Linked DNA regions of Homo sapiens. The protein of the gene in region 1 purifies or fractionates together with the protein of each later gene. This does not show direct contact. Each region holds a gene or a part of one and is shown on either strand. Other genes may lie near its edges. The genes, in order: EEF1AKMT1 and TTLL12.

Region 1 (3,600 bases):
TTTTTTAAATCACTATTTTATCATATCTTTATTGTTTTTAAAATTTCTAAGGGGGTTTATGAGATTTTTCAAATCCAAAAGAGCTGGGAAGTACTGTGTTATATTATTATTATTTTTAAATTTTTTCTGGCTACTCTGGGCACACTGTCTATGGCTGGCCCTGCCCCACAAGTGGCAGTAAAAAAAATTTTTTTCTTTAGATTTTAAAACTTGTACCTATGGATTATATTGAAATTATATTATTATTAAGCTGACCTTGGACCTTATGTGGCTCAGACTCTAAATCAGCAGTTCTCACAGAATGAGGAGCCCTTTTGTCGCTAAGGGGAACATCTGGCAATGCCTAGAGACATTTTTGGTTGCCGTAAATGGGAAGGAGGGTGCTACTGGCATCAGGTGGGTAGAGGCTGCTGAACTTAAAATTCACAGGACAGCCCTCCACATTAAAGAAGTATCCCGCCCTACAAGCTGCAGTTGAGAAATTCTAGGTTAGGCAGACACATGGCGAACACCAACGGTAAGGTGGAGGCCCTCTATAGAGAAGCACCATTCACGCCATGGGATCAGAGTGGAGGGCCTGAGTGGGGAGAGGAGTGAAAGAGCAGGTGGAGCTTCAACTCGGCCTCAGGAAAAGGTAAGGATGAAGAGTGAAGACTTCAGAAAGATGGAACAGCATGAGCAAAGGGGCGGACACGTTAGCTTGCAGCATAAGCAGGGATTAGCTGGCTTCTCAGGGGCTGTGGTTAGTCTCTTTTTGGATAAAATTACTCAATTTCCATGTTATCAAATTTACTTAGGGCAAAACCACCATACTGTAATTTCAACATTCATTCTTGTGTGAAATTAGGTTAAGATAGTGTGATTCAGAGCAAAGAGCATTAACCTAGGAGCCATCCCAGACTCCAGTAAACCGCAGGAGAGCAAGGCTCCCTCTATGAATGGGTAAGGCCTAGATATTCTCCAAATACTTTTTATAAATTGCTGGATGATTCTCCCCTTAATCCAATTTACGTCCAGAAAAGGGCCAAAGGTTTTCATTCTGTTTTCATCTTTGAGTCCCCCTGCCTCAAACAGTTCCTTCCTTCTTGCTTTCCAGAATTCTATTTATCCTGTTTTTAAATTAACTTTAAAAAGGAGGTAATGCTTACAATGAAATGCAGGTCGTACGTGTGCAGTGCGACGTTGTGATGTACGCCCCATGTAACCACAACCCCTATAAGGAAGGCCTTCCTGTCTGACATGTGGCTCCCTCCCGGTAGGGACCCGCTATCGTCCCAGCACTTCTTCTGCACCTCCGAAGCTACTGCCCGTTTCGCAGTAAAGCCGCCCGCGTCCTAGTCTACTCCACCTCGCAGCACCCGCATCCTGCAAGGGACCTGCCTCAGAAGCCCCAGCGACAGGCGCCGCGGGTGCCCGCCCTCCAGGAGCGGACAGTCAGGCCTGGGCATTTCGCAAACTCCATCAGCGAACTTCTGAGGGCAAAGATGAAAAGGACAGCAGGCCGAGTCCTGTTTCTACTCGGAGGGAAGGGAGGCCTCCACGCGCTGCCGTAGCCTGGGGGTTAATTTCCCCGTCAGCACCAAGGCTGCCTAAGGCCCGGGCGCCAACGTGCGCGGCACAGGACGCGGCGCCTTCCGGCGACCGGGACGCGAGGCCCAACAGCGCCTAACACAGCAACCAGGATCCACTCTCAGGCCGGCGCCAGCTCCTTCCCTCAGGAATCCGCCAGCCACTGCTAATTAAACTCTTCCACCACTACCACCCTGGAAAAAAGGTGAGAAACAAACACACAAAAGGCACCTAACCCAGTCCAAAACGCCTCGGCGGCGCGCAGCCAACCCTACAGCTGCGCCCGAACCCGCCACTCACCAGCCGCGCGTGCGCAGTCGCCCAGACTCGCCGTGTGCAGTGGGAGTGGCTAGCCAGTCTCGCTAGCGCAGGCGCAGGCCCTCCCGCCCAGGCCCTTGCGCAAGGCAGGCCATCTCCCCGCAGCGTCTCAATCCCGCGTTTACAACACTGAGGGCCGTCTCCAGCCTGGAGTCGTTCCTTCGCTTGTCTCATCAGCCGCCCCCAAGAATGGTAGCAAAAAAACAACAACAACAAAAAAAATGAAGGCCCTGGCAGGGCGCGGTGGCTCACGCCTGTAATCCCAACACTTTGGGAGGCCGAGGCGGGCGGATCACCTGAGGTCAGGAGTTCGAGACCAGCCTTACCAACATGGTGAAACCTCGTCTCTACTAAAAAATACAAAAATTAGCTGGCCGTGGTCGCGTGCGCCTGTAATCCCAGCTACCCAGGAGGCTGAGGCAGGAGACTCGCTGGAACCCGGGAGGCAGAGGCTACAATGAGCCGAGATCGCACCACAGCTACTCCAGCCTGGGCGACAGAGCAAGGCAACATCTAAAAAAAAAAAAATTAAGATCCTAATTAAAGTTAAACCCACTATTTTGCACTGAGTCACGTAGATTTTCAAAGTCAAGGCTTCATTGGTCGATTGTCTGCTCAGTCTTTTTAAATCAAATCGTTGACTTTAAATGTTGACATCAAATTGAGGCTTTGGTAAAATTGACAGGATTGGCGGTAGCGGGGGGGAACCTTTAAAACTTGTTAGTCTTTCAGAGTCTTCAGTTTTGAATGAGTTGGTCAATATATGTATTTAGACATCAAGCGCCGTAAGTATGTATGATTTTTGTCAACAACACCTTAATTATCTTGCACATACAGGCACTGATTATTGAAAGGTTCCCTTACGTTTTAGCAGCTACCAAATTATAAGTGATACAAAGTATTTGTTTCCAATTCCCCAAGAAATCAATCTGTATTATGCTTCTACCCTCTCTTTCCTCCATTTTCTTTACCAATTTCATGATCTTGCTAAATTTTATATATTCTGCTGAGCAATGTGAAAATCCTTTCTGGTATAAGGTAAGGATATAAACTGTTCAGCTGGCAAATGATGCTATTCAGTAAGTAGTTAATGAAACAGGTTTATAACATTGGGTGTACTATAATTTCTATTTTAAGAACTGTTTCCAGTTTATAATAACCCATGCTACATTTTGACTTTGTTTTGAATTGATGACAAGTCTATTAACCAAATATTTCAAGATCAGGTGTATTCTGGAAAAGGAACAGGAAGAAAATATATTTAAAAAACTAAAAGAAATTTAACACAAACTGAGAAACAATAACCAACTTTTATGAGTGCATTTTTTATGGAGGTGGTGTTCAGTAAATAAGACTGCCCTAGCTTATAACTACTTTAACAGAAGTTTACATTCAGTCAAATTGAGTCTGAAACAGTAGATCATTTTCTTTCAAAGCTGACATTGCTTTAATAGCATGTAAGACATGTTATCTTCATGTATTTTACTATATACTATTTTTACTATGAAAGTGACCACAGATGTCAGAGTTTTTTGTACCTTCACTAGACCTGATTGCTCAGACAGCATGAGAGTAATACAGTAAGATTCATATTTTCCTGGTGAAACCTATGCACTGTAATTTAATGGTTTTTGCAAATCATAAACATGTAAAATATCAAAGGAGTACTTATTCTCATTAAAGGGGAAATTACTTGTCCAGTTAAATTGGATA
Region 2 (4,117 bases), on another chromosome or scaffold:
TCACCACAACCCCTTCATGGCAGGACTGGAAGAGCTCCCCAGGAGATAAGGGGAGTGGTTTTGCAACTGGGAAGCTTGTGCAGACAGAAGAGTAGACATTTTAAAAACATCTCTTCGGCCGGCCGTGGCGGCTCACGTCTGTAATCCCAACACTTCGGGAGGCCAAAGCGGGCGGATCACGAGGTCAGGAATTCGAGATCAGCCTGACCAACATGGTGAAGCCCCATCTCTACTAAAAATACAAAAATTAGCTGGGTGTGGTGGCGCACGTCTGTAATCCCAGCTACTCGGGAGGCTGAGGCAGGAGAATCATTTGAACCCGGGAGGCAGAGCTTGCAGTGAGCCGAGATCATGCCACTGCACTCCAGCCTGTGTGACAGAGCAAGACTCCGTCTCAATTAAAAAAAGAAAAAAATTATATATATATATATATATATATATATATATATATATATATATATATATATATGTATGTATCTTCAAGTTTCCCCATCCTTTCCAGGGCAGCCGGCCTAAGGTGAGGCAGGAGGGCTGATGGCCAGGGGTGTAAGGGCCCACAGCGCTGGCAGGTGCTGCTGCTGCTGGCGGCCTCCTCCACACCTGGGCCAGTAGCAGCAGGAGGCTTCACTCAGGAAGAGCTGCAAGTTTGTGAATGGTAAAGCAGTGATTCAGCTCTGTCCTTAACGGCTGGGGAAGGGTCACGGAAAAACACTGGCTGCCCCTTAGTAGGGCAACAGCAGGCAAGGCGGCCTGGGCAGGGGACGTGGCACGGTGGCGACCACCCTCTGTGTGCCAGGCATATTTCTCATGCCACCTCCCATCCTTCCAATACTGTGGGAGCCAGATGGTGTCTCACCATCCCCTTCCCAGATGGAGAACAGGTCTCAGACGGGCGAGTGACCGCCCGAGGGAGGGCGTGCTGCCGTGGAGGCTGGCTGGGCAGGAGCTGGTCATTCCCACTGTGCTCCTTCCACGCAGCCCATGGGAACCTTTTTGTCCTCATGAACAAACCAAGGTCCCTTCCACCCAGCACAGGCCTGGGACCAGAGTGGTCCTCGGAAAGCATATGGCAGAAGTGAGGGGCAGAGGAAACTCTCTGTTACACTGTAGCATAAGGAGGTGCCACTCACTGCACGTTTCCAGCAGGAAGGTTCCTAGTCCAATCAGGATTACACAGAGAAAAACTGGCTCAGAGACCGTAGAGTCTGGCCAGCAGCCAGGCTCAGGGACTCCTAGTTCCCGGCCCGGGTCCCTGTTCTTGGCTCTGGGGTTTCCACTTCATCACCTGCGCCACTAGGCTCATCTCCGTCCGGGAGACAGCACCTGGAGGAGATGTCGGGTCCCAGCTAAAGAAAACACCCCCCCCCCCGCCAGCCCGGGAAGGTGCTGTGGCCTCAGCCTCTGGGCACGCAATAAAAATCCAGGGCTCATCCCCAGCCAGGACAGTGGGGAACGCTTTGGAGTGGAGGAGGCAGGTGAGCCGGATGGGCCGTCCTCACAAAAAGGGAGAGAACCTAGAGGCTTCTCAATCTTTTCCATTTTTCTTTAGATTTCTCCTCCACCTCTCACAGCCTGTTTTCTTTAACCTGCAAGATGAGGGGACCCCGAGGCTCAAATCAAATGAAAAAACACCGAATTCTGTGAACCCAACAGTTACAGCTACACAAATTCACGGGGTTCCCGTTGTCCCTGTGAGGCAGCGGCTGAAAGAATCCCTCTGAAGGGACTCTCGGAGCCGCAGTGTTCTCATCTGTGAAGTGGGGGTGATGAGTTTCACTCCTCGCAGGGCTGTGTCAGGCTCGGGTGTGTGGAGGACCTAAAGTTCCCAACGCAGCCCTCAGCCGGTCTCGGGCCCGGGCAGATCAGGGCCGCAGGTACCCCGGTCTCCTGCTGTCACTCTTCGGCCCCCAACTCCACGCCGCTCCAGAGCTGCCCAGGACGCGCTCTGGGTGGCTCACCGCGGCTCCCGCCGCCCGGGAGCGCTCTTCCCTGTCCCGCGCCGCGGGCTCCCGCCGCGCTCCCACCCCGGCCGCCGCACGTGCCCGCCGCCCTTCCCCGCACCTCGTGCTCCAGCTTGTGCAGGAGGCGGCCCCAGTAACGTTCGGGGACCCCCGAAGCGCGCAGCGCCGGGCCGTGCAGCGCCGCGAACTCGGCCAAGGCCTGCGCGCCCTCCTCCGGCGTCTGGCCCGGGCTGCTACGCTCCGCAGGCCGGCGCTCGGGACCCCGCTCGGCCTCCATGGCGCCAGCACCCGCGCCGACTCCAGCGCCGCCACCGCCGCCGCCGCCCGCCGTCCGTCGGCCCTGCCCTCCCGCCTCCGCCCCCTGCCCCGCCCCGCCCTCCTCCCAGCGCCCCCCCCCCCGCCCCGCCCTCCTCCCAGCCCCCCCCCGCCCCGCCCTCCTCCCAGCCCCCCCCCGCCCCGCCCTCCTCCCAGCCCCCCCCGCCTCCGCCCCCCGCCCCGCCCGCCTCCCAGCACCCCCGCCCCGTCCTCCTCCCAGCCCCCCGCCCACCGCCCCGTCCTCCCCCCAGCCCCCCGCCCCTGCCGCGCCCCCTGCCCCCGCCCCCTGCCCCCCTCCCCACCGCCCCGTCCTCCTCCCGGCCCCCCCGACCCCTCCCCTGCCCCGCCCTCTTCTCGCCCCCTCACCCCGTCCCGCCCCGCCCCCAGTCCGCCTCCAGCCCGGTTTGCCGCGGCCCCCGGGCAGGCCCTGCGCATCGGCGGGGTGCGTGCGAGAGCGCGCGAGCTTGCCAGGAGGGGGCGCGCGTCTGCGACCGCGCCTGTGGTTTGGCTGCCGCCGTGTGCGCACGCGCACCTGATGGTGGCTGAGCTTTTCTCGCTCAGCGCGCGGCGACCCCGGGGAATGCCGGGAGGGCGGGGTGCCTACGTATAGGGCGCTGTCAGGACCGGAAAAGGCCCCACCGACGGCCCGGAAGGTGTCCTGGGGCCCGAACCCGGTGAGGCGGCGCTTCTGTGCCTGCACCGGGCACACAGAGCTCGCAGGCCCCCTGCCTTGGGAGCTCTCGATTCTTGTGAGCGTTTCACCAGATTTGGATGCTGCAAAATCGTGGCCCTTCTCAATTACTTATATTTGGATTCGGAATGTCAGTTGATCCAATTAAGACCAAGTGTACCCGTCAGAGGAATTTACTCCTACATGTCGGGATGTTTCGAAGTGCAGTTGAGCTGGGCGTGGTGGCCGCGTCTGTAGTCCCAGTTACTCGGGAGGCTGAGGCGGGAGGATAGCTTGAGCCCAAGAATTCAAGTCCAGCCTCGGCAACATAGCCAGACTCCCTCTTTAAAAGAAAACAGTTCAGTTATAGAATTTCAAAAGACATTCTCTTTTGAACTCTCATTGAGTTTTATTGCTCCATAGGGATACATTTCAATGTCTTCCTTTTTGCAATTTTGTAAGAATTGTAATTTGCTAAAAAACAAAGGCTGAAAATTTTTTGGAGCTTCAGATGCTATTTTGATAACATTTTTGAACTGAGTTTGAATAAAATGCACCAATTCACGGACTTGTTCAATTCCATTGTAGGAAGCAGGTGGGTCTGCAAAGGCAAAAATTTCCAAACTCAAGTTGGTGAGGGCTGCAGAGAAAAACATTTTATTTATTTATTTATTTTGGGATGGAGTTTTGCTCTTGTTGCCCAGGCTGGAGTGCAATGGTGCAGTCTCGGTTCACTGCAACCTCTGCCTCCCGGGTTCAAGTGATTCTCCTGCCTCAGCCTCCCAAGTAGCTGGGGCTACAGGTGTGTGCCACCACGCCTGGCTAATTTTTTGTATTCAGTAGAGACAGGGTTTCACCATGGCCAGAGGAAAACCCTGATTCCTCGGTTTTTGTTGTGGAAGCCAAGGCTGAGATTGTACCATTGCACTCCAACCTGGTCAACATAGCGAGACTCCATCTCAAAATAAATAATATAGTAAAACAGCATCACAATGCTAGGATGGGGCATGCTGGCTCACACCTGTAATTCCAGCACTTTGGGAGGCCAAGACAGGAGGATCACTTGAAATAAGGAGTTTGAGACCAGGCTGGGCAACAAAGCAAGACCTCGACCCTACAAAAAGAAATTTTTAATTAGCCAGGTATAGTGGTACACACCTAGTGCACCTCC

What was found.
Region 2: the proteins of EEF1AKMT1 (region 1) and TTLL12 purify together in Homo sapiens (affinity purification with mass spectrometry; 2 studies listed by BioGRID and IntAct, with this or other methods). This does not show direct contact.

Annotation. Positions count from the first base shown.
Region 1 is NC_000013.11:20,772,052-20,775,651, forward strand, and holds the start of EEF1AKMT1 (EEF1A lysine methyltransferase 1), read right to left. Parts: upstream 1,911-3,600; 5' UTR 1,870-1,910; exon of another isoform or gene 1,806-1,869; intron 1-1,805. UniProt on the Homo sapiens protein: Protein N-lysine methyltransferase that selectively catalyzes the trimethylation of EEF1A at 'Lys-79'.
Region 2 is NC_000022.11:43,184,832-43,188,948, forward strand, and holds the start of TTLL12 (tubulin--tyrosine ligase-like protein 12), read right to left. Parts: upstream 2,304-4,117; 5' UTR 2,239-2,303; coding exon 2,062-2,238; intron 1-2,061. UniProt on the Homo sapiens protein: Negatively regulates post-translational modifications of tubulin, including detyrosination of the C-terminus and polyglutamylation of glutamate residues. Also, indirectly promotes histone H4 trimethylation at 'Lys-20' (H4K20me3).